Regions from separate parts of the Homo sapiens genome. Here region 2 is linked to region 1. The links come from fine-mapping of genetic effects on plasma protein levels. Region 1 holds a variant in brackets. A gene starts in the other region. All regions are shown on their reverse strands. Region 1 overlaps XYLT1 (xylosyltransferase 1). Region 2 holds the start of NCAN (neurocan).

The links. A credible set is the group of variants that fine-mapping cannot tell apart. PIP is the posterior inclusion probability: the model's chance that the variant is causal. Protein levels are from antibody-based Olink assays in UK Biobank. Linkage for the fine-mapping came from a reference panel and not from the study's own genotypes, which makes the PIPs less certain.
Region 2: it holds the start of NCAN, and the variant in region 1 is the best candidate, but not a certain one, in a credible set for the plasma level of the NCAN protein (UK Biobank, PIP 0.63).

What each region holds. Positions count from the first base shown.
Region 1 is chr16:17,285,559-17,293,558 of GRCh38, reverse strand. The region is part of intron 2 of XYLT1 (xylosyltransferase 1); the gene reads left to right. Among named protein-coding and RNA genes, the nearest start is that of XYLT1, 180 kb to the left of the region's middle. The variant A/T (reference allele first, on the strand shown) is at 4,118.
Region 2 is chr19:19,208,336-19,223,987 of GRCh38, reverse strand. It overlaps NCAN (neurocan), which reads right to left and starts at 12,030. Exons shown (of 15, transcript NM_004386.3): 1 at 11,924-12,030; 2 at 6,962-7,041; 3 at 4,672-5,073. The coding sequence starts at 7,034. RefSeq lists enhancers at 9,380-9,880, 9,881-10,381, 11,934-12,228.

The DNA.
Region 1 (8,000 bases):
CCAGGATTGTGCCGCTGCACTACAGAAGGAGACTCAGTCTCAAAAAAAAAAAAAAAAAAAAAAAAAAGGAGGGAGAAAATCTTTATGTTAAAAACTACCCAAGCCTCTGGTTTGGGAGTAAATACATAGCTTTACACCTCCAAAGTGTCACGTTATTTAATTGGTACCACTGTCCCTGGGGAACTTCAGTGGCTATGCTAAGTGGAAGTTCCATTAGAGAGATGCTCCCAGGTCAGCGGAATGAAAATTAAATACTAGTTGTTGGGTGTTAAACAGAGGTTTTGGGTGTGTTTGGTGGAGGTAAACTCGGGGATGCCATGATACCCTGTCCTGCAGTCACCTCTCCTCCCCTCCCAACCTTCCAGGACCCCTAGGCAGCAGTGGGGGTAGCCGACAGAGAATCAACTTCCCAATCTTCTAGCACAGAGTTCCAGTAAAAGTCTTCTTGGAAGTGCCCGCTTTACGGGTTAGCTAAAGTAGGACCTCCACTCTCTTTGCTTGTAGCTGCAGGTGGGAATTTTGGCTCTGAAATGCTCCCATGCCTGCAGGGAGCCCAACTCAGCTTACAATTCCATTGCATGGAGCTGCCCAGCATGTGCCAGAGTCCTGGTTCCTGAGGCTCCCACACAGTGACCCTGCCCACTGTGGCCCCCTTAGTGCTCAGGGCTGAGATGAAGTGGATGAACGTCTCATCCCTGACCGTGGGACTGGGCAAAGTGTGGAGAGATGTGAGGAAGTGGCCTCTGTATTCCCATGTGCCCCACTTTGTGCAGGAAAGTGTTTCTGAAAGACCATGTGTGGGCCAACAGGGATGATGTCAACACAAATGTGCTTTTCTCATTCACTTCAACTTTAATGCCAGGGATTTCTCTGCTTCATTTCCCATTGCTATTCTGGTGGCATCGTCTCCTACCAAAGTGGTTTTAAACTTCTCCTTCATCGCCAGTCTGTTCAGGTGACGCTCAGTAAATAAACACTTGACTATACCAGAGCTGTACAGGGATCCACATCAGCCAGCCTCTCTGAATTTCAGGGGCTATTGTGAAGAGCCCTGCACAGCAGGTCATTTTGGATACACAGATCAGCTCAGCAAATACAGAGATGGAACTGATATGTGAGAAACAGAACACAATCAAGAGATAATAACACGAAAAAAATAGAGATGGGAGAGTTTTTTTTGTGAAGTGAGGAATCTCGTCTGTGACACAGATTCAAATAACTAATTGTGTTTCCCTCTTTGCATTGCCTGCTAGGAAGCTCAAAGACAATTCATATCTCTCACATGTCTCATAAGCTCAGAGACAGAGGTCATATCTCTCATAAAACCTATGGTATTATTTTAAATGCTTCTGGTGGCAAATTGAATTTCCCATCATGTATATATAATATATATAATATTTAGAACCTTTCAAAAAACATATATATAGACACACACAGATATATATGTGTATATGTGTGTGTGTGTGTGTGTGTGTGTATGGTTTAGTGGGCACCACCATGCCCGGCTAGCTGGCTAATTATTTATGGGTTTTTTTGTAGAGACGATGTTTTGCCATGTTGCCCAGGCTGGTCTTGAACTCCTGGGGTCAAGAGATCCACAGGTCTCGGCCTCCCTAAGTGCTAGGATTACAGGTGTCAGCTACCGTGCCTGGCCATCCTATCATATTCTTTTCTCTTCATTCCTTTCCTTACCACACCTCGTCCCCACACTGTGTTTTATCTGTTTAATTTTTGGTCAGTGGAACAGTGTCTTTTGTTTAAGCCTTTTTGGAACATGGCATTTTTGTAACACCGAACAGCAGGAATAAATAGCTATTGCGATAAAATACAATTTCCAGGTCTTTTTGTATATGTCTTTCACTTAAGCCAGCAGCTTTCATTCCTGTACCCCTTCTCAGCACATTCTAAGTGTGAGGTCCTCAGCACCGTATTTGACCTTCAGAGCTTTAGGAAAACACAGCTCAGGGGCCTCAGAGGATTTCTGGCCTTAGAACAGACAGAGGCTGGGAAAATTGAGGTGGGTGTGTTCCACCCCACCCAAATCCAAACCCCTCTATTGGTTCTGGGCTGGACACACAGGATCTGTTGTTCATACTTGACTGTGCCACTACCAGGTGGGTAACAGTGGGCAGGACCCCTGGGCCTCAGTTTCGACATCTGTGTAATGGGAAATAACCTCAGCCTGCCAACCTCACAGGTCCCACATCTTACATATGCTGCTCATTGAATGAAAGTTCTTTTAAAATGAGACAATTAGGCCAGGCACAATGGCTCACACCCACACCCAGCAGTTTGAGAGGCCAAAGCAGGAAGATCGCTTGGGTCCAGGAGTTCAAGACCAGCCCTGTGGCAACATGGCAAAACCTCTTCTCTACAAAAAAGTCATAAATAGCCAGTTAGCTGGGTGTGGTGGTGCCCACTAAATCATATATTAACCCAGTCGCTGCCAAAAAAAAGTTAACCAGGTGTGGTGGTGTGCACCTGCAGTCCTTGCTACTCAGAAGGCTGAAGTGGGAGGATCCCTTGAGCCTGGGAGGCTGAGGATGCAGTGAGATATGATTGCGCCATTGCACTCCAGCCTGGGTGACAGAGACCGTGTCTCAAAAATAAATAAATGAATAAAATAAGACAATTGTCAGGTGGCCTGAGGAGGATCAGGATTTGGTGGCAGAGCCAGGGTGTTGATCCACCCCAGGACATTGTAACCACCTCTATCTGATCACCCAAATTAATAGGATCATTTACCAAGTCAGTTATTTTGTCATGTTTCAGATAGGCCCTGAAGTCAGATGAGCTGGCTGTGAATCTCAGCTCTGCCCTTCACTAGCTGTGGGCCTTGGACTTTGGCCTCAGTCTCTTCATCTTTATAATGGAGATAATTATGTTAGTAGTGATTATTCCACATCTAACACAGAGAAAGCCCATGTCATTTGCAGACATTTACAAGTGCATGCTCCATGGTAGGCTTTGACACCTCCTTGGGTCGATTCAACAGTTTGGGGAGCTAAGAGTACAGTAGGGGATTCTGAACACAGGATCTGCTGGTACTTCCATGCGGTTGAAGGCCCCTGCCTGTAAGGCGTCTCCTTCCACTTTGTTCTTGGCTCCAAGAGTCATGGCAGCCTCCAGAAATAGCTTCATCCATGCCAGGTCCCGGGACTGAGGTTGGTGGTTCTTGGAAATAGAATTTAACCGTAATGAAACATGAGATGGACCTTCCGCTGCCTTTGGTGCTTTAGACTTTTAAAATTAAAGTCAGTCCAGATAGACATCTCTAGTTTTACTTAGAAAGTTGTTAAAAATTATGGAAAGTTTGACACTAACCCTAACTTTCCTTGGTTGAAATTTTGAAGATGTGGCTTTCAGCCTCTAAACTGGATGAGCTGCTTTGCTAAACACTCAAGTCTACCTCTTTTTCTTTTTCTTTTAACTGAGGAGAAAGTAGCCAAGTTCAGAGTCTACTTTGATTGCCAACACGGTTCGATATTCTAAGTAGGACAGCTAAGAGGCAAAAAGAACAAGAAAGAGATGGAAAAAATGAAATCTATTATAACATTTTATTTTTTGGATGAGATAGATATCCTTAAAATGGAAAATCACTGGGATTTCATTTGCTTCAAGCCAAATTTTTGTTCTCTGCAGAAAGTCATCGTCATCTTCCTTTCTTGCTTCTTACAGAGAGGTTGCCCCAGAGACGGGGTGTGTGGGATCATGAAACAGCTCTTAGACTTTCCTCTGCATCACTCTGGGTTTGGGGTTTTGTTTTGTTTGCATGTTTGCGTTTGTTTTGTTTTCATTTTGGTTTTTTGCAAACTTTTTTTTGGAGCCAGTCAAATTTTCCTAGGTACAGAACTGAAGCTTTTGTTTTTAATATTCTGAATAGGAGTCATTTGCATTCTCAACTGTCACCCTGATGATGTTGGGTCTTGGATTTGGAATGCAATCAGAACTTTTTAAATTCCCATACCTAGGGAATCCAGAAAGATATCATCCTAACATTGGGAAAACACATCAGTCAAACTGATTTCTGGAAATGACATAGATTTATGAAATCAGGGAGTTGAGACACACTTACGCTGGGGAAACAAAGCCCCTTGAGTTGAGAGGTACTTGTCAC[A/T]TGTCTCAGGGTAGAACATAAACATGGCAGAAGACAATTGCGGGATTTTATGTGGAAATTCTAGAGGAGGGAAAGAGGGAGGCGACAGACAGAGAAAGGGGAAAAAAGCTGGCACAAATGGTGATGATACAGAGAAGCAACCTAGAGCAGGAGGTAGCAAACTGCCATTCACAGGCCAAATCTGGCCCTCCACCTGTTTTTAGAAATAAAGTTTTATTGGAACACAGCACACCATTCATTTACATACGCCCTATGACTGGTTTCACTCTACAATGGCAGGGTTGAGAGGTTGAGGCAGAGACTGTATGGCTTACAAGGCCTAAAATATTTATTAGCCAGTCCTTTACAGAAAATGATTTCTTGACCCTAGGTATAGATCATCGTGGATGAAAACTTACAATGGTGTAGAATCCCAGCTCCATCTCTTATCAGCTGGGTTGCCTTAGACAAGTGACTTTATGTCTCTGAGGCTCAGGTTTTTTAAAAAAATCTATTTATTGTATTCTTGGGATGTTTTAACAAATCACCTCAACACTCAGTGGGGTAAAACGGTAAGAAATTTTTATTTGTTACTGTTCAAGAGTCTTTGGGTGAGCTAGATGGTTCTTCTGGTCTCAGTGGTGGTTCTCCTGATCTCAGTTGGGCTGTCATGTCTGGAGATTGGCTGCCTCTAAGCTGGTCTAGGATTATCTCAACTGAGAGGAAAGTCATTTGGACTCGCCTCCACGTGGTCTCTCATCCTCCAGTAGAGAGCAAATGGCAGTGACAGGGTTCCAAGACAGAGAAGCCAAACTTAGGGTCACCTCTGCTACCTTCTTTTGGCCAAAGCAGGTCGCATGACCTGCCCATATTCAAGGTATGGACAAGTCATCTCAACCTCTTGGGAGAAGCAGCAGGGCACATTGCCAAGGGCAAGCATACAGCAGGCCATTGCTTGGGACCATCAGTACAGTCGGTCTACAATAAGCATAATAAGACAAGCCCCAAGAAGAACAAAAGAATCACACACAATCCCTGACAGGTAGGAGGTAAGTAAGAAATCCCAGCTGCCGTTACTCTTGCCATGAGTGAAACTGTATAGCTAAGTTATACACCAAGGGTTTTGCTGGCAATTGATTTATCTTGTAGCCTCTCTGCTTGGACACTGCACTATTTTTATATTGGAGAAGGGAGGAGTAACTGTTACCGGCCCCCACCTGAAGAATTATGTCTAGGTGGGGCCCAGTGGCTCACACCTGTAATCCCAGCAGTTTAGGAGGCCGAAGCGGGAGGATGGCTTGAGCTCAGGAGTTTGAGACCAGCCTGGGCAACATAGTAGGACCTCATCTTCTACTACAAATAAATAAATAAATTAGCTGGTGGTGTATGCCTGTAGTCTCATTTACTCGGGAGGCTGAGGTGGGAGATCACTTGAGCCTCACTTGAGGTGGCAGTGAGCTACGATTATGCTGCTGCACTCCAGCTGGCCAACAGAGCCAGACCCTGTCTCAAAAAAAAAAAAAGAAAAATTATGCCTAATAGAGTTCCTGGCACATCTTAAACTCTCACTTAGTATTAATCTTTTTTCCTAAGTGATTGGTAAATGTTAAGCTCCTGGTATTATTATTTCTGCTGCCAGTTGGAACTACCAGTCCTCCACCCCTTCTTTAGATGCCCAGCGTCTGTCTGTCTGTCTTTCTTTTGCCTCCCCTGCTCCTCACTTGACTTCTGTCTTAGGGACATTCAGCAGAGATTTGCTTTCTTCCTCTCCAGGAGCCCCACACAGTGGGCCCTTAATGCAAAGTGACATCTGAACGGAGTCCAGGGCCCTGGGAGGGCTCCCCAGAGGCAAGCTTTTGGCTGAAGCAGCCTCCAACAGAGTCCTCAGAATGGCTAAATTGCAGCCTGACAGTGCAGATCAGGAAAGGTCACTGTGTGAAGTGGCTGCCTGATTGGGGTGGGGAGATTTGGCCACATGCGGTACCGGCTGCAAGGATTCGACAAATTGTCTCATGGTGCAGAGTTACCTTCTGTGAGCCCAGAGTTTTTTCTGAGACTGTGATGAAGTGGCCACAGCCCCAGGAGGTGGGAGGAGTATGATCTAGAGGGATCCGTCTACGTTCTGAGCGTTTGCCTGCTTGAGGATACTGCACTGAGCGTTAATTGAGCAGCCTTGGATTGGGTTGATTCTTGAACTGGATTAAAAAAAAAGAGGGGGAGTGGTGTCTGAGTGGGTGATGGAGCATCTACATGATGAAAAACTAGATCCACGCCAGGCCTGGGTTTGAATCTCAGTTCTGCCTATTTTTAGCTGGCTGCAGTGTTTCTGCGTATGCTTGTTCAGGATATAACTACAGGAGGGAGTTAAGTAGGAGCCAAAATTCACCTACACTCTGGTCATCAAGGCATACTGTAGACTCAGGGCTGCAATTGCCCAGAGTAAGGGGAATCTTTTTTATTATTCTCATAAAGCTGCAGGATCAGTGAATGATCGTGGCCTTGGCTGGGTGGTGTTTGGTGGGTTTGACCTCCCCAAACACCTGAACAGAATTCAGGGTTTGAACTCTGAACGTAAGTTTCCTCATCTGTAAAATTGGAATGAAAACACTCCCCATCTCATAAGTTTGCTTAAAGCAGAAGACATGGGGAGATGCTTAGAGCAGTGTAAGGACACAATCAACGATGGCTATACTTTGTGGTGAAGGTGGCAGATTACCTGGGTTCAAGTCCCCGTCTTCCATTGCTTGCTGGAAAACCTTACAACAAGGATGGGGATGATGATGAGGATGATGATGATGAGGATGATGATGATACCTATCCATGGGGATTGTTGTGAGGATTCAAGAAGCTAATATACGTAATGTGCCTAAGTGTGGCTAGCTAATGAGTATTAGCTAAGCCAGTTTTACATACAATTTTAGTGCTGTGTTGATCAAGGATCCACATGGGTGACAGGTTGACCTGGGCTAAGAAAGTGACAGTGCAGATCCGTGGATACTTGAAGGTGAATGGTTTGGGATGACAAGGAGAGTGGTCTTTATATTGGTGAGTCAGTCCATGGTTTGACCAAAACCCTGAGAACATTCTTGGATGTATTAATTTCTCTAATTTCCATCTGCCATCCCCTTCCATGATTATTTATTCCATACCTCCCTCCCCAGCCTCCCACCCACTCCTCCCACATATTGCTCAGTCTCTGTTTACCCCTTCAAGTAAGTGTGGTGGAGAAGGGTCTTGATTTATGAGCTTACATGAGCCTGGTTCAAATTCCAGTCCTACCAATTACTAGTGCCGGGACCTTGAGCAAATGTCCTAGCCTTTTTGAGTCTAAGTATGTTTGGAGTAATAATAGATCCTCTATGACAGGTTTATTGTGAGGGTCAGAGAAGATCATGAAAGTTAGTGATTAGCAGAGAGGCACGTGGGCCCAGACCCCCATTGTGTTAGCTGCTGTTTATGTTGATATTGGCATAACACAGTCTCTCTCTGTCTCTCTGTCTCTCTCTCTTTCTCTCTCTCTCTCACTCACTCACACACACATGGACACACACACACACACACACACACACACACACACACACACACACAGAGATACACCAGGTTTGGGGCTAGACCCTTGGGGGTTATAAACTTGAATAAGTTCTGCTCCTCAGAAGGACACATTTTTAGGGGGCTATACCATGTTAACAAGCAATTCAGGTGGAAAGTTCTGTAGTGGAGTTGGTAAAAGTGTTCTGTAGGCATAGAGGAGGAGGAGAAAGTCTGGTGAAGGAGACAGAGGCAGGGGTCATTTGAATGCAAGCCAGGGTGAGGGGTGAAGGGCCTGGCATTCCTGGCTGAAACATCAGCAGAAAGCAGGGCCCCCGGGCATGATGGTGAAATTTGCAGCCAGGCCTAAATGCTG
Region 2 (15,652 bases), not on the chromosome of region 1:
GACTTATGCTGGAATCTTCAAGAACAGACCTACCTCTTGCAGAATGACTCCCCACCCCTGTCTGATAATAATAGACCTAGCGCCAGGCACAGTGTGGGTCGAGGGTGGGGAGCAAGATCCATATGCCCCCATTTTACAGATGAGGAAACTGATAACAATGGCCATAAAGGGTTACAAGTTAGCAAATATTTACAATGTGAAAAGCGTTTACGGCCGTTCAGGCATGTTGGCTCACTTCTGTAATCCTAGCACTTTGGGAGGCCAAGGTGGGCAGATCACTTTAGGTCAGGAGTTCGAGACCAGCCTGGCTAACATGGTGAAACCCTGTCTCTACTAAAAATACAAAAAATAGCTGGGCATGGTGGCATGCGTCTGTAATCCCAGCTACTAGGGCGGCTGAGGCAGGAGAATCGCTTGAACCCAGGAGGCAGAGGTTGCGGTGAGCCGGGATTGAGCCACTGCACTCCAGCCTGGGAGACAGAACAAGACTCCATCTCAAAAAAACTAAAACATTAAAAAAAAGAAAAGCATTTATAAGCATTATCTTATTGAACTCTTACAACAAATCTGATTGTTCTAGAGGAGGAAACTTAGGGTCAGAAAGGTTGAGGGACAGGTCCAGGCCCACGCAGCAAATAAGAAACAGAACCAGAATTCAAATTCAGAGAGATCTGACTCCAAAGATAGCACTCTTCATGCCCAGGGTTAGGCCCTGGAGGTGGCAGGAGGTGTGGAGAAGGCTGACAGAGAGTTTCTGCCTTTTAGGAATTAAGTGCATGCGCTAATAGGGAAGCACAGGCAGCAATGGGAGACCAAATGTGGTTCTTTTTTATTTATTTATTTATTTTTTATTTTATTTATTTTATTTTATTTATTTTTTGAGACAGAATCTCACTCTGTCGCCAGGCTGCAGTGCAGTGGCGCGATCTCAGCTCACTGCAAGCTCCGCCTCCCGGGTTCACACCATTCTCCTGCCTCAGCCTCCCAAGTAGCTGGGACTACAGGCGCCTGCCATCACGCCCAGCTAATTTTTTTCTATTTTTAGTAGAGATGGGGTTTCACCATGTTAGCCAGGATGGTCTTGATCTCCTGACCTCGTGATCCGCCCACCTCAGCCTCCCAAAGTGCTGGGATTACAGGCATGAGCCACCGCGCCCGGCCCAAATGTGGTTCTTGCCTGGCCTGGAAATGTGGTCCTGGAAGGCTTCCTGGAGGAGGTGACATGTAAGCCAGGATGTGAAGCCCTGGTAACAGGCTCACTGTGATTCAAATTCTGATTTAGGGATGAAAGAAATGGCTGAACAAGACAATGAAATGAAACACTTTGCTCTGGCTTATCCAACTGAGAGCTCTGTGTCCTCAGCATTGGACCAGTACAGTGTAGGTGCTCAATAAATGTTTGGCTGAATGTCCGGGCATAGCAGCTCATGCCTGTAATCCCAGCACTTTGGAAGACCGAGGCAGGCAGATCACTTGAGGCTAGGAGTTGGAAACCAGCCTGGCCAATGTGGTGAAACCCTGTCTCTACTAAAAATACAAAAATTAGCCAGGTGTGGTTGTGTGCACCTGTAATCCCAGCTACTCCAGAGGCTGAAGCAGGAGAATCGCTTGAACCCACGAGGCAGAGGTGCAGTGAGCCAAGATCACACCACTGAACTCCAGCCTGGGTGACAGAGTGAGACTCTGTCTCAAACAACAACAAAAAGAGTTTGGCTGAATGAATGAAATTGAAGTTACCTAGATGTGGAATTCACTTGCCTCACCACCAATCAGTTTGTTGTTGTTGTTGTTGTTAGCTTTTATCAATTTTCAGAAATGAGGCCTCTGAAAGGGGATGACTGGTTGACTCCATAAACTATGTGGTAAGACACTGTGTCCCCAGTTCCCAGTTTGGGGGCATGCAGGTTAAGCCCCAAGACAGGAATCAGGGACTTGCCCAAGGTCAATTTAAGTTAAGGGAAACAGGTTTCCCAGCAGGAGTCCACGGGATGTTTGCTGTACAATAATCCATTCACTGAGTCATTTATTGAGCATCTACTGTGTGCCAAACCCTGTTCTTTATTTTTAGTTTTTGACTATTTATTTATTTATTTATTTGAGTCAGGGTCTCCCTCTGTCACCCAGGCTGAAGTGCAGTGGTGCGATCTCAGCTCACTGCAGCTTCCAACCTTCCAGACTTAAGCGATCCTCCCACCTCAGCCTCCTGACAAGCTGAGACTACAGGCGCACACTAGCATGCCCTGCTAATATTTTTTTAAAAATTTTGTAGAGACGAGGTCTCACCATCTTGCTCAGACTGGTCTTGAACTCCTGGGCTCAAGCAATCCTCCTGCCTTAGTCTTTCAAAATGCTGAGATTAGAGGTGTGAGCCGCCACATCTGGCTTATTTAGTTGTATTATTATTATTATTATTATTTTTAAGATGGAGTTTCCCTCTTGTTGCCCAGGCTGGAGTGCAATAGCACAATCTCGGCTCACCTCAACCTCCACCTCCTGGGTTCAAGCGATTCTCCTGCCTCAGCCTCCCGAGTAGCTGGGGTTACAGGAATGTGCCACCATGCCTGGCTAATTTTTGTATTTTTAGTAGAGAAGGGGTTTCACCATCTTGGCCAGGCTGGTCTCGAACTCCTGACCTCATGATCTGCTGGTCTCGAACTCCTGACCTCATGATCCACCCGTCTCGACCTCCCAAAATGCTGGGATTACAGGCGTGAGCCACTGCGCCCAGCCATATTATTATTATTTTTGAGACAGGGTCTTGCTGTGTTGCCCAGGCTGGAGTGCAGTGGCATGATCAAGGCTCGCTGCAGCCTCGATCTCTTGGGACTCAAGCAATCCTCCCACCTCAGCCTCCTGAGTAGCTAAGACTACAGGAACACACCATCATACCTGGCTAATGTTTTGGAATTTGGAATTTTGTATAGACAAGGTCTCACTATGTTGCCCAGGCTGGTCTCAAACTCCTGAGCTTAAGTGATTCTCCTGCCTTGGTCTCCCAAAGTGCTGGGATTACAGACATGAGCCACTGGGCCCCCATCCCCGTTTTTTGTTTTTTGTTTGTTTGTTTGTTTTTGTTTTTCTAATAGAGACAGGGTCTTGCTATGTTTCCCAGGCTGGTCTTGAATTCCTGGCTGAAGTGACCCTTCCTCTTCAGCCTCCCAAAGTGCTGAAACTACAGGTGTGCACTACCACACGCAGCTCAACAAGAAGAATTTAATAAAGGAATTGGTTGCCAGGTGCGGTGGCTCATGCCTGGTAATCCTAGCACTTTGGGAGGCCGAGGTGGGCAGATCACGAGGTCAGGAGATCAAGACCATCCTGGCTAACACGGTGAAACCCCGTCTCTACTAAAAATACAAAAAATTAGCCAGGCGCTGTGGCGGGCGCCTGTAGTCCCAGCTACTCAGGAGGCTGAGGCAGGAGAATGGTGTGAACCCGGGAGGCAGAGCTGGCGATGAGTTGAGATCATGCCACTGCACTCCAGCCTGGGAGACAGAGCGAGACTCCCATCTCAAAAAAAAAAAAAAAAAAAAAAAAGAATTGCCTAAACAGGTATTTGAGAATTGTTCTTGCTTAATATTTAATATACATCTTAAATTAACTTACTTTTAAAAAATTGCCTCACTTAGAAAAAAACTTAAGTTTATTTTACAAGGAATTTTTTATTTCTATTTTAAATAGAAAGCCAGTATCCTTTGTCTTACATAAAATCAGATAACCATAAAATTGACTCCAAGTAAAATCCTGCCTAGACGGAGGATGCAGTGAGCTTAGATAGCACCACTGCACTCCAGCCTGGGCAACAAGAGTGAGACTCCATCTCAAAACAAACAAACAAAAATCCTGCCTAGATATTGTGGCCCCCAGAAGTCTGAGCTGGAGACTCCTCTCTCATAGCTAAAAAAGAGAGGTGTTAAAGACAAGATAGTACCCATACTGATACAGACGTTTTTTTTCTTTTGAGACAGAGTCTCGCGGTGTGGCCCAGGCTGGAGTGCAGTGGCTCAATCTCAGCTCACTGCAACCTCCACCTTCTGGGTTCAAGCAGTTCTCCTGCCTCAGCCTCCCAAGTAGCTGGGATCACAGGCATGCATCACCATGCCTGGCTAATTTTTTTTTTTTTTTTTTAAAGACGGGGTTTCACCATGTTGGCCACACTGGTCTCAAACTCCTGACCTCAACTGATCCACACGCCTCGGCCTCCCAAAGTGCTCAGATTATAGGCACCATAAAGACTTTAGGACTTTATCAGAAGAATTCAAAGGGAATCCCGGTTCAGAGAGTGATTTCTTTCCTTTTTTTTTTTTTTTTTTTTGTGACAGGGTCTCCCTCTGTCATCCAGGCTGGAGTGGAGTAGCCTCAACCTCCCAGTCTCAAGTGATCCTCCCACCTATGCCTCCCAAGTAGCTGGACTACAGGCATGTGCCACCATGCCTGGCTAATTTTTGTATTTTCTGTGGAGACGAGGTTTCACCATGTTACCCAGGCTGGTCTCGAACTCCTGTGCTCAAGCAATCCACCCGCCTTGGCCTGCCAAAGTGCTGGGATTACAGGCATGAGACACCAGGCCAGGTCTCAGGGAGTGATTTCTAAGGTGACATTCAGTGGGTGGGCTCCAGGCTCAGCCCTCCCTCTCCCCGGCCCCCGGCCCCTCCTTTGCCCCCAACTGACCTGTCACCTCCAAGGGCACCAGGTCCTGCTCATCCTCGATGCCCCTCACCACCTGGCAGCGGTACAGCCCAGAGTCACTGGCCCTCAGTGGCCCCAGAAGTAGCGTGGCGTTGGCTCGGCGCCGGGGGTAGGAAGGCAGTGACACTCGTCCCTGCCAGCTTTTGGCCACCCTCACGACATTGTCCTTGGCCACCAGGATGGGCAAGTCCTGTCGCTGGCCCGACGCAGTCCGCACCTTGGTCCACTTTATCCGAGGGGCATCTCGGGCTGCGCTTGGCCGTGGCTGCAGGGTAAAGAGACAGGGCAGGGCCACCAGCTCCGCCAGCGCAGCCTGCACTGACCCAGACCCCAGCTTCTGCATGTGGAGCCCCCTTTCGCTGGCATCGGTGATATCCTGTGTGCCTGGGTTGGAGAAGGTGGAGAGAGGGCCTGATTCAGAGGCAAGAACCAAGCAGGGACTGCTATTTCCCTCTTTTAAAAAATTTTTTAAAAGGGCTGAGCCAGAATTTGAACCTAGGGCCACTTGACCTCAGAATCCAAGCAGTGGCTGGACGCGATAGCTCATGCCTGTAACCCCAGCACTTTGAGAGACCAAGGCGGGCAAATCACCTGAGGTCAGGAATTTGAAACCAGCCTGACCAACATGGAGAAACCCTGTCTTTACTAAAAATACAAAATTAGCTGGGTGTGGTGGCACATGCCTGTAATCCCAGCTACTCAGGAGGCTGAGGCAGGAGAATCGCTTGAACCCGGGAGGCAGAGGTTGCGGTGAGCCAAGGTCGCACCATTGCACTCCAGCCTGGGCAACAAGAGCGAAACTCCATCTCAAAAAAAAAAACAAAAAACTATTTTTAGAGATTGAGTCTCACTCTATCGCCCAGGGTAGAATGCAGTGACATGATCATGATTCACTGCAGCCTCAAGCTCCTAGACTCAAGCAATCCTCCCACCTCAGCCTCCCGAAAGTGCTGGGATTATAGGTATGAGCCACTGTGCCCAGCCCCTTATTATTATTATTCTTTTATTTATTTATACTTTTGAGATGGAGTCTCGCTCCATCTCCCAGGCTGGAGTGCAGTGGCATGATCTCAGCTCACTGCAACCTCTGCCTCCTAAGTTCAAGCAATTCTCCTGCCTCAGCCTCCCCAGTAGCTGGGATTACAGGTGTGTGCCACCACGCCTGGCTAATTTTTGCATTTTTAGTAGAGATGGGTTTCACCATGTTGGCCAGGCTGGTCTCCAATTCCTGACCTCAACTGATCCACCTACCTTGGCCTCCCACAGTTCTGGGATTATAGGGGTGAGCCACTACACCCAGCCTTATTATTATTTTTTTGAGTCTGACTCTGTCACCCAGGCTGGAGTGGAGTGGCATGATCTCGGCTCACTGCAACCTTCGCCTCCCAGGTTCAAGCGATTCTCATGCCTCAGCCTCCCGAGAAGATGGGATTACAGGCATGTGCCACCACACCTGGCTAATTTTTGTATTTTCTGTAGAGACGGAGTTTCACCATGTTAGGCAGGCTAGCCTGGAACCCCTGACCTCAAGTGATCTGCCTGCCTCAGCCTCCCAAAGTGCTAGAATTATAGGCATAAACCACTGTGCCTAGCCCCTCACTTTATTTTTATAAGGACAGGGATTTCACTCCAGTGCCACTGATTCACTGTATGGCCCTGGGAGAGGCATTTTCCTTCCCTGAGCCCCAGTTTTTCCGAAAGGTAAAGCAAAAGACAGCTAATGAAAAGGAAATGGTGTTTGCAGAGTACCATCTTTGTAACAGGCACTTTATAGCAATCAGCTCATTTGATTTTCATAACCATCTGCAGAGTAGCAATGTCTCATTCTCTTTGGGGGGAGTTGAGGAAACTGAAGTTCAGAGAGATAATTATACTTGCCTAAGGTCACAGACCAAATCTGTGAGGGATTTCTAAAACCTGGGCTCTTGACCACCAGTAGAGGGACACAGACCTTTATTTCCATCGCTCCACCCTTGGCAGACATCACTAATCAATCTCTGCACTATTCTCATTTCTTTCTTTCTTTCTCTCCAGTTCATCTGAGCAAAACGATGAGAGGCGGGAATCTCCAGCTTCTGCTGACAATGACTAAAAATAACCTCTTAGGTATCCTGTTCGCTTTTGACTGTTCAAAGACCTTTTAAAATCTATTCTCATTTTATTCTCTAGCCCATGCCAGGAGACCAGCAGGAGAAGGCTCTGGAATTCAAAAGCTGCCCCATCTTGTCCATCCCCTAGACCCCAATCTCTCCCTCCCCACAAACCAACTCACCCTGTTCCCCAGCCACAAAGAGCAGCATCTGCAGCATCAAAAGGCCCAAGGCCCAGACAAACGGGGCCCCCATCCTGGATCTGGAACAAAATGGAGAGGGAGGGAGGGGTGAGCCACAGCCCAACCCTCCCAGATATTCAGCATTGCAGGACCAAACTCCCCCACTCTACAGATCAGGAAACCAGGGCTCAGAGAGACCAGTGTGTTATTCTAGGTCACAGAAGGAGCCAGCAAAGGGCTGAGCCAGAATTCGAACCCAGGGCCACTTGACCTCAGAATAGCAGTGGCTGGACGCGGTGGCTCACGCCTATAGTTCCAGCACTTTGGGAGGCTGAGGTGGGAGGACTGCTTGAGGCCAGAAGCTTGAGACCAGCCTGGGCAACATAGTGAGATCTTACCTCTATTTAAAAAATTAGCAGCCAGGCGTGGTGGCTCACGCCTGTAATCCTAGCACTTTGGGAGGCCGAGGAGGGTGGATCACGAGGTCAGGGGTTCGAGACCAGCCTTACCAACATGGTGAAACCCCGTCTCTACTAAAAATACAAAAATTAGCTGGGCGTGGTGGCAGGCGCCTGTAATCCCAGCTACTCAGGAGGCTGAGGCAGGAGAATTACTTGAACCCGGGAGGTGGAGGTTGCAGTGAGCCGAGATCACGCCACTGCACTCCAGCCTGGGCGACAGGGTGAGACTCTGTCTCAAAAAAAAAAAAAATTATCTGGGCTTGGTGGCGCACACCTGTGGTCCCAGCTATGCAGGAGGCTGAGGTGGGAGGATTGCTTGAGCCCAGGAGTTCAAGGCTGCAGTGAGCTATGATTCCACCACCACACTCCAGCCTGGGTGACAGCGCGAGACTGAAAACAAAACAAAACACAACACAACAACAAAAAACAATCCAAGCAATGAAGTCTGTGGTCAGAAGCCTGGGTGCTGGTAGTGAATCAAATCTGGAATTGGCTCACTGTTCCTTTTGTGTGATCTTGGGCAAGTTGCTTACCTTCTCTGTGCCTTACTTTCTTTGTGGGTCAGATGGGGATAACATCAGGTAGTTGAAAGGAATGGATGAGTCAATACATATAAAATGCTTAGAACTGTCTCATGCAGTAAGGGGTACATTTTAGCTGCTGCTATTATTATTACCGACCTTAACACAGCCAAGACTGAAATACCATTTTTCAAGTCAGCCTCCTCCATCAGACTGGCGGCTCCTAGAGGGCAGCAGTCTGTCCCAGTCCTCCCAGCATCCTCAGTCCAGGCAGCAGGCTGGCCTCTAAGCCATCCTTTAATCTGGGTTTGCTGGCTGACACGATTCGCAGCTTCAATTCCAGGATTTGGTTGTCACCAAGATTCTATTCTTGGTTTCTGGGATTTTGGAGGAGCCGCCAACTCCCAGCTGGAGGAAGGGGCTCACCCCTGCCCACCCATCCTCCTCCTGACTTCACACAGCTCAACAAAGATACTTCTTAGGCCCACAGAGAAACTTCAGTTGTGGGTCCATTTCCCTATAGGGGCTAGGACCCATAGGGATAAAGTGGACAATTATTAAGCGCCTACTGTGAGCAAAGCCCATGCCAGTCGTTGGGACACAGCAGTGCATTTCCTGACTTCACATTGTTCCAGAGACTAGGAATCCTGGGGAGGTGGTCCCTCCCCAAAACCTCCCACTCCTGCGAACCCCGGTCACCAGGGCTCAGGAGGTGGGCGCAGATGGAAAATTAGAACATCATCTGCAAACCCAATCCTTGCTCCCCGCCCCCATAAGAAATTATCCCTGAGGAAGGGGTGTGAACGGAGTCCAGAAGGGGAGGCTGTATGTGACAGCTGTCCCTTTCCCCAGTTCTCCTTCCCAGCTCCCAGAGTCCCCTGCTGGGAGGCCGGCCTGGGACCTGTCCGTGGTGCTGAACTCTGAGGCGGCAACGCAGCGGCAAAGCCCACCTAGTCCACCCCTGCCTCCTGCCTGCTAACACGATGCCTCAGGGACCAGAGAGGGCTAGAGGTTTGCCTCAGGCTGCACAGCAGGGTAGAGGTCAAAGCCAGACCCTGGACCAGTGCTCCCAACTACCAACTTGTAAACCTCAGCAACCTCTGCCTTCACCAGGCTGTTCTCATTTCTTCCCCTTGGAACCCTGAGCAAGTGTGGGGTCCCCTCATGGCTGTTCCAGGCCTGGCCAGGTATTAGAGAGAGACAGGACTCCGGGTTGCACCTGCCCCCAGCAGGGCCTTACGAGAGGACAAGGCCAGAGAATTCTCTTTCTCTCTCTCTCTCACACACACACACACACACACACACACACACACACACCCCGTTAACAGGTCAGACTACATCCAGATAGCTCTGCTTCTAATCCGGGACAAGCTGCTTCAATCTCTCTGTGCCTCAGTTTCCCCACCTGTAAAATGGAGATTATCCAGCAAGTACCACCTGCAGCTACTGTGAGGATGAAATGACCTAAGACTTGCAAAGTCCTAGAAATGTTAAATTTAAAAACAGCTCTTTAGACACAAAGCCTCATGTATACGCTAAAAATATACTGAGGTTGCCCAACATGGTGACAGACACAGTTTCAGGTGCACACCCCCCACACACACCCTCCCACTCCCTTCCACTCGCACCCTCACACACCCACACCCTTCTCTTAAAATACCTCCTCCCCAGGGCGGCCAGAGATGAGCATTTACACAGCTGTCTGGGGCCCGTGCCCTCATGAATAATGTACAAGCCTCATGCATATGCAAGCAGGGGCCTGCGGGGTGCTGGAGGAGGGGCAGCTCGGATCCATGTGAATGTGTGTGTGTGAGAGAGTGTGTGTGAGTGTGTGTGTGTAAGTGTGTGTGTGTCCCCTCCTTCACTTCACCCCCACCTCAAGTCTCCGTTAGCACTGAGTGAAGGTGAGTTTGCCAATGGGCATTTGTGAGTGTTTGTGACTGGGTGTGTGTCCGGGGTGTTGTGTCCTGGCAAGGGTGTGAAGGCGGTTGTGCCATGTGGTGGGTGCATGTTGTGTGTGTGAGCCTGCAGCAGCTCCGTGCACCGGGTGGAGCACATGGGACCTAGTGTGATCTGTGGATGTGTGTGAGTCTGAGTGACCCTCAGCAGGGGGCTGTGCGCACATGTGTGTGTTTCTGACCTGAGAGTCAGGGTGTATTAGTGTGCATGGGTGTGAATGTGGAACTCCGTGGAGGAGAAAGGGAGATGGGCTCAGTCATCATCCCGGGCTTCCCCTTGGGGATTTCAACCCCTGCTCAAGCTTTCCCTGTTAGCGCCCCAACTCTGAACACAGACCACGTCCCACACCCCCGTGCCAAGGGTGCACACTGCCAACCGCATGGAAAGAACCCTTGGCCCCTCCAGATACACAAGCGGGACACACACAGCCACGCACCCCAGACACAGACCCTGGGGAAACACACACTCACACAGATTCACAGTGACATTAACAAAGAGAGACAATATGGGCACTTACAAGACAGGCGGCGTGTCTTCTGCACAAAGACACACACCCACAGTCTCGGGCCCCCCCCCCCCCACATAAACCCCTTGATGAACGGAACAGCATCAGACATAGCTCCTCACTCACACGGCGATGCCAGCCCCTGGCACAAACCGAGATGGATAATTGTGGCCTTGGTGACCGATGGACACCCATCATTTTGCCACATGGTGATGTGGCCCTCGGCACAAGTTTTCTGACAAAGACACAACCACAGTCACATCAGACTCACAGGGGACCCTAGAACCCCTGGGCATACTCCCCCTCCCTGCCTGTCTGGGGTGGACACACACACAAAACCCCCATATCCTTGAGGGGGAACTTGATTTCAGAATGTCCATCAGCTATTGCGACGGCTGGGTTCTGGGGTCCCACAGTGCACCCACCCCTTCCTGCCTGCCCTGCCCCCACGTCCCCCGCTGGGGCCCAGAGCCAACCCTCTCCCTGGCCTGGCTGTTTCTCATTGATGCTGCCTGAGAGGAACAAAGCCCCACGCGTAGGGATGGGGGTCTCTCCTGCCCAGACAGGGCCCTTACTTCCCAGCCCCTTACTTCCCAGCCCCTGTGCCCCCAAACCAAGCCAGCGCTTCCACATGTGTCCATATGGACAGGTGGAACTAAAGGGGGTGGGGGTAGGGGTCTGTGTCATGCTGTAAGGACGTGGGAGGCTGTGAAGGTGCTGGGGGACAGCCCCCCCTCTGAGCTGGTATCCCTCACAGGTCCTGGGGATCCATAGCTGGGGGGTCTAGGGGACCCCCACCCAACATTCACCTGGGACACCCAGTGTGTTCCCTGGGATAAGGGACAACACCTCAACCCAAGGTCTAAGGGAATAACGGGGAACCACGTTGGGATGGGGACCCCCAGGACCTCCTCCCTGAGTCAGAACGTGGTGACCGGACCTGACCCAAAAGGACAGGGAGATGGCAGGGAGCCCCTTCCCCATGGCCGTTCGCTCTCAGCGCAGATACCCTTCCATTGGGCACAGGGTGATCTGGGGGCCCCCTCCCCACTGCAGTCCGGCCCGGAATCCTCCATTCAACCGCAAATTGGGAATCCCTACTTAAAATCCTGGGGTGTCTCGGCTGAGATACGGGGGTGCCCTGTTCCAGAGTCCCCCATTCGGCATCTGGGTGTCCTCTTCTTCCCTCCAAACTCGGGGGGCCCCTCCCCTAGCCCTGTTTCCCATTGCTCCCTCCTCAACCCTGAGACCCACCCCCAGCCCGGCCCCCTCCCCACCGGGGGGTAGTCTCCGGATTCCGCGGACAACCTTCCTCCCCAAATGTCTGTTCACCTAGCATTCCCAAGCCCCCTCCCAGTTCGCGCTCCCTCCTCAACCTAGGGCTCCCCTCCCCCGCTTCAGCCCCCTCCCCATTCTGGGGACTTCTCCCTGGTCTCAGGTCCTCTCCCTAATCCTGAGCTCTGTCTCTAATCCCGAAGTCTTCTCCCGCAACACGGCCCCCTCACGGATCCCCCACCTGGCTCCTAGCTCGGACGCATCCCGGGGCGGCCGCCGGGCACAAAGGACGCTGCGCTCCGACTCAGCCAGCTCCGCGCCGGGTCCAGCCCCTGCGCCCTGCGCTCCGCTGGCCCCAGCGCCGCCTCAGTGCTTATAAAGGGGCCGCGAGGGCTCTCTGCGCATGCGCCCCCGCCAGCCCGAGGCCTCTGGCTGCGCGAGGGAGGGGGCTCCCCTGCCTAAAATCCCCACCCCGCCCATTTTTTGGACACTCACCGCACCCAGGAGAAGATGGCATCGATTCTCCTCCCATTCTCTTTGCCCCAGGAACCGCGTTAAACGTCCCCATTATGCCCCAGGATGAGGCCGTCCCATTTTACAGGTGGGGAAACTGAGCCCCAAGGAGGCAAAGTCGCTTCCCAAGGTCACGCACAGAGGCAGAGCTGGGATTCGAACCTCGCCCTGCCTGATTCTCCAGGACTCACGTTCAAAGCAGTTTTGGCTACAATTACTGGTTTACCCCATTTACAGAGAGGAAACTGAGGCACGGACGAGACGGGGAGACTCCTTGTTCACACAGCTGGTAAGAGGCACGCAGGGTGGGAGTCCAGGTGTGTGACACCCCCGAGCTGTTTCCAGCAACTACAGCCAGATTGTATCATTCATTCATTCACCTTTGTCTGATCAGCATTTATGTAGCACACTCTATGGACTGGGTACTGCTGTTGACACATGAATAATTTTGCTTTATGCAGAGGCATAGGCATGTCCCTGCCATGAGACATGAGACCCCAATCTTTTTTTTTTTTTTTCAGACGGAGTCTTGCTCCGTCATCCAGGCTGGAGTACAGTGGCACGATGTTGGCTCACTGCAACCTCCACCTCCCAGGTTCAAGCGATTCTCCTGCCTCAGCCTCCTGAATAGCTGGGATTACAGGCACCTGCCACCACACCCAGTTAATTTTTGTATTTTTAGTAGAGATGTGGTTTCACCATGTCAGCTAGGCTGGTCTCGATCTCCTGGCCTCAAATGATCCGCCCGCCTCAGCATCCCAAAATGCTGGGATTACAGGCATGAGCCACCGCGCATGGCCTTGAATTACACATTTTAAGATGGTGAGTTTTATGTTATCTGTATTTGACCACCATTAAAAATATGGTAATGAGGGCTGGGTTCGGTGGCTCACACCTGTAATCCCAGCACTTTGGGAGGCCAAGGCGGGTGGATCACCTGAGGTCAGGAGTTTAAGACCAGCCTGGCCAACATGGTGAAACCCTTTCCCTATTAAAAATACAAAAATTAGCCAGGCGTGTTGGCAGACACCTGTAATCCCAGCTGCTCAGGAGGCTGAGGCAGGAGAATCGCTTGAACCCAGGAGGCAGAGGTTGCAGTGAGCTGAGACCATGCCATTGCACTCCAGCCTGAGTGACAGAGTGAGACTCCGTCTCAAAAAAAAAAAAAAAAAAAAAAAAGCCATGAGGAGGGAAATGTGCCCAGAGAGGGCAGGCTTTGCCCCTGCCTTCCTTCCTATGGTCGTGGTGTTTCTGTGCTGAGAATGGGCTCGCAGCGCTCCACCCTGGGTCCTATATCTGTGAGTGTGTGTTTAGCATCTCTGAGGGTGCGTGTCCATCTGGTAGGAGGATAGGCAAATGAGGGACAAGATAGCTTCCACAAGGTTATCAAAGAAAGGAGGCCTTGGCCAGGTGCCGTGGCTCACGCCCATAATCCCAGCGCTTTGGGAGGCCAAGAGGACAGATCATTTGAGGTCAGGAGTTCGAGACCAGCCTAGCCAACATGGTGAAACCCCATCTCTAATAAATCAAAATTAGGGTGTGGTGGCGGACGCCTGTAATCCCAGCTACTCGGGAGGCTGAGGCAGGAGAATCGCTTGAACCCTGGAGGCGCAAGTTGCAGTGAGCCGAAATTGGGCCACTGCATTCCAGCCTGGGCAACAGAGTGAGACTCCATCAAAAAAAGAAAAAAGAAGAAGAAAGGAGGCCAAGCACCGTGGCTCATGCCTGTAATCCCAACACTTTGGGAGGCTGAAGCAGGCAGATCACCTAAGGTCAGGAGTTTGAGACCAGCCCAGCCCAGCCAACATGGTGAAACCCTGTCTGTACTAAAAATACAAAAATTAGCCAGGCATGGTGGTGTTCACCTATAATCCCAGATACTCAGGAGGCTGAGGCAGGAGAATCACTTGAACCTGGGAGGCGGAGCGTGCAGTGAACCGAGACTGTGCCACTGCACTCCAGCCTGGGTGTCAGAGCAAGATTCCATCTCAAAAAAAAAAAAAAAGATTATCAAAGAAAGGGTAGGAATGAATGAGGGATAAGGGGGGACCCCAGGTGAGCAAGGGGTAGCCCTGGGGTCCAAGATGATACAGCGGGAAGCTGCACTGACTGTTTGACTCTGTGTCACAGAGGAGAGATGGAGGTCAAGGATCCCAGCTGATGTGAGTGTCTGCAGGTGACAGCTGTGTCAGCAGCACCCAAACAGCATGCAATGACTAGTCGGTGAGGCTGGAGCGTGCTGGGGGGTTGGCTGTGGCTCACACTGGGAAAGACGCTGAGAACAGCTGCGTGACGTGCGTGAGAACCGAGTAGCTCAGCCTCCACAAGTCTGGGGTTCAAACCCCCTCCCTGCCATTCGTAACAATGTGACTCTGAGTGAGCCATCTCATCTTTCTGTGTCTCAGTTTCCCCATCTGAAATGGGGATAGTCCAGGTGCCGGTGGCTCATGCCTGTAATCCCAGCACTTTGGGAGTCAGAGGCAGGAGGATCACTTGAGCCCAGGAGTTCAAGACCAGCCTGAGCAACACAGTGAGACCCCCATCTCTACAAAAAATAACTTAAAAGTTAGCAGGACATGGTGGCACACATCTGTGGTCCCGGCTACTCGGGAGGCTGAGGGGGAAGGATCGCTGGAGCCCAGGAGATTAAAGCTGCAGTGAGTCAAGATTGCATCACTGTACTCTGGTCTGGGTGACACAGTGAGACCCTATTTCAAAAATGAATAAAATAAAATGGGGGGAGGGTGGGCGCGGTGGCTCAAGGCTGTAATCTCAGCACTTTGGGAGGCCAAGGCAGATGGATCATGAGGTCAGAATTTGAGACCAGCCTGGCCAACATGGTGAAATCCCGTCTCTACTAAAATTCAAAATTAGCTGGGTGGGGTGGTGCACACCTGTAATCCCAGCTACTCAGGAGGCTGAGGTAGGACAATCGCTTGAACCCAGGAGGTGGAGGTTGCAGTGAGCCAAGATGGCACCACTGCATTCCAGCCTGGGTGACTGAGTGAGATTCCATCTTGGGAAAAAATTAAATAAATAAATAAATAAAATGGGGGATAATGAATGTCCCTACGTTACCGGTTGCTTGGAGAATGAAATGGGAAGTAAACACACAGGCAGGGACTGCTGTTTATTTTACAGGTGCTGGGGAAACTGAGGCTTAAGGAGCTAGGATCACCTGCCCGAGGATGTACAGAGTGAGTAGAGACCAGGTGGAAGCCAAGGTCTGTGGGCGCAGAGCTGAGCCCCAACCCCACCTATCCTCATCCTTCTGCTTCCCCCGCTTCTCCACTCCTCCCCACCCCTTGCCCCCACCCCCCGGCTCCTCGCTGGTGCCAGGGCTGAGCTTAGAGGGGCTGGCCTGGGGCCCAGGGGCGGGCTGTTGCCGGGGGCTTGAATGAGGCAACCTTGCCTGGGAATCTACTGGGCTCAAAGAGCTATTTATAGGCCTGAGCTG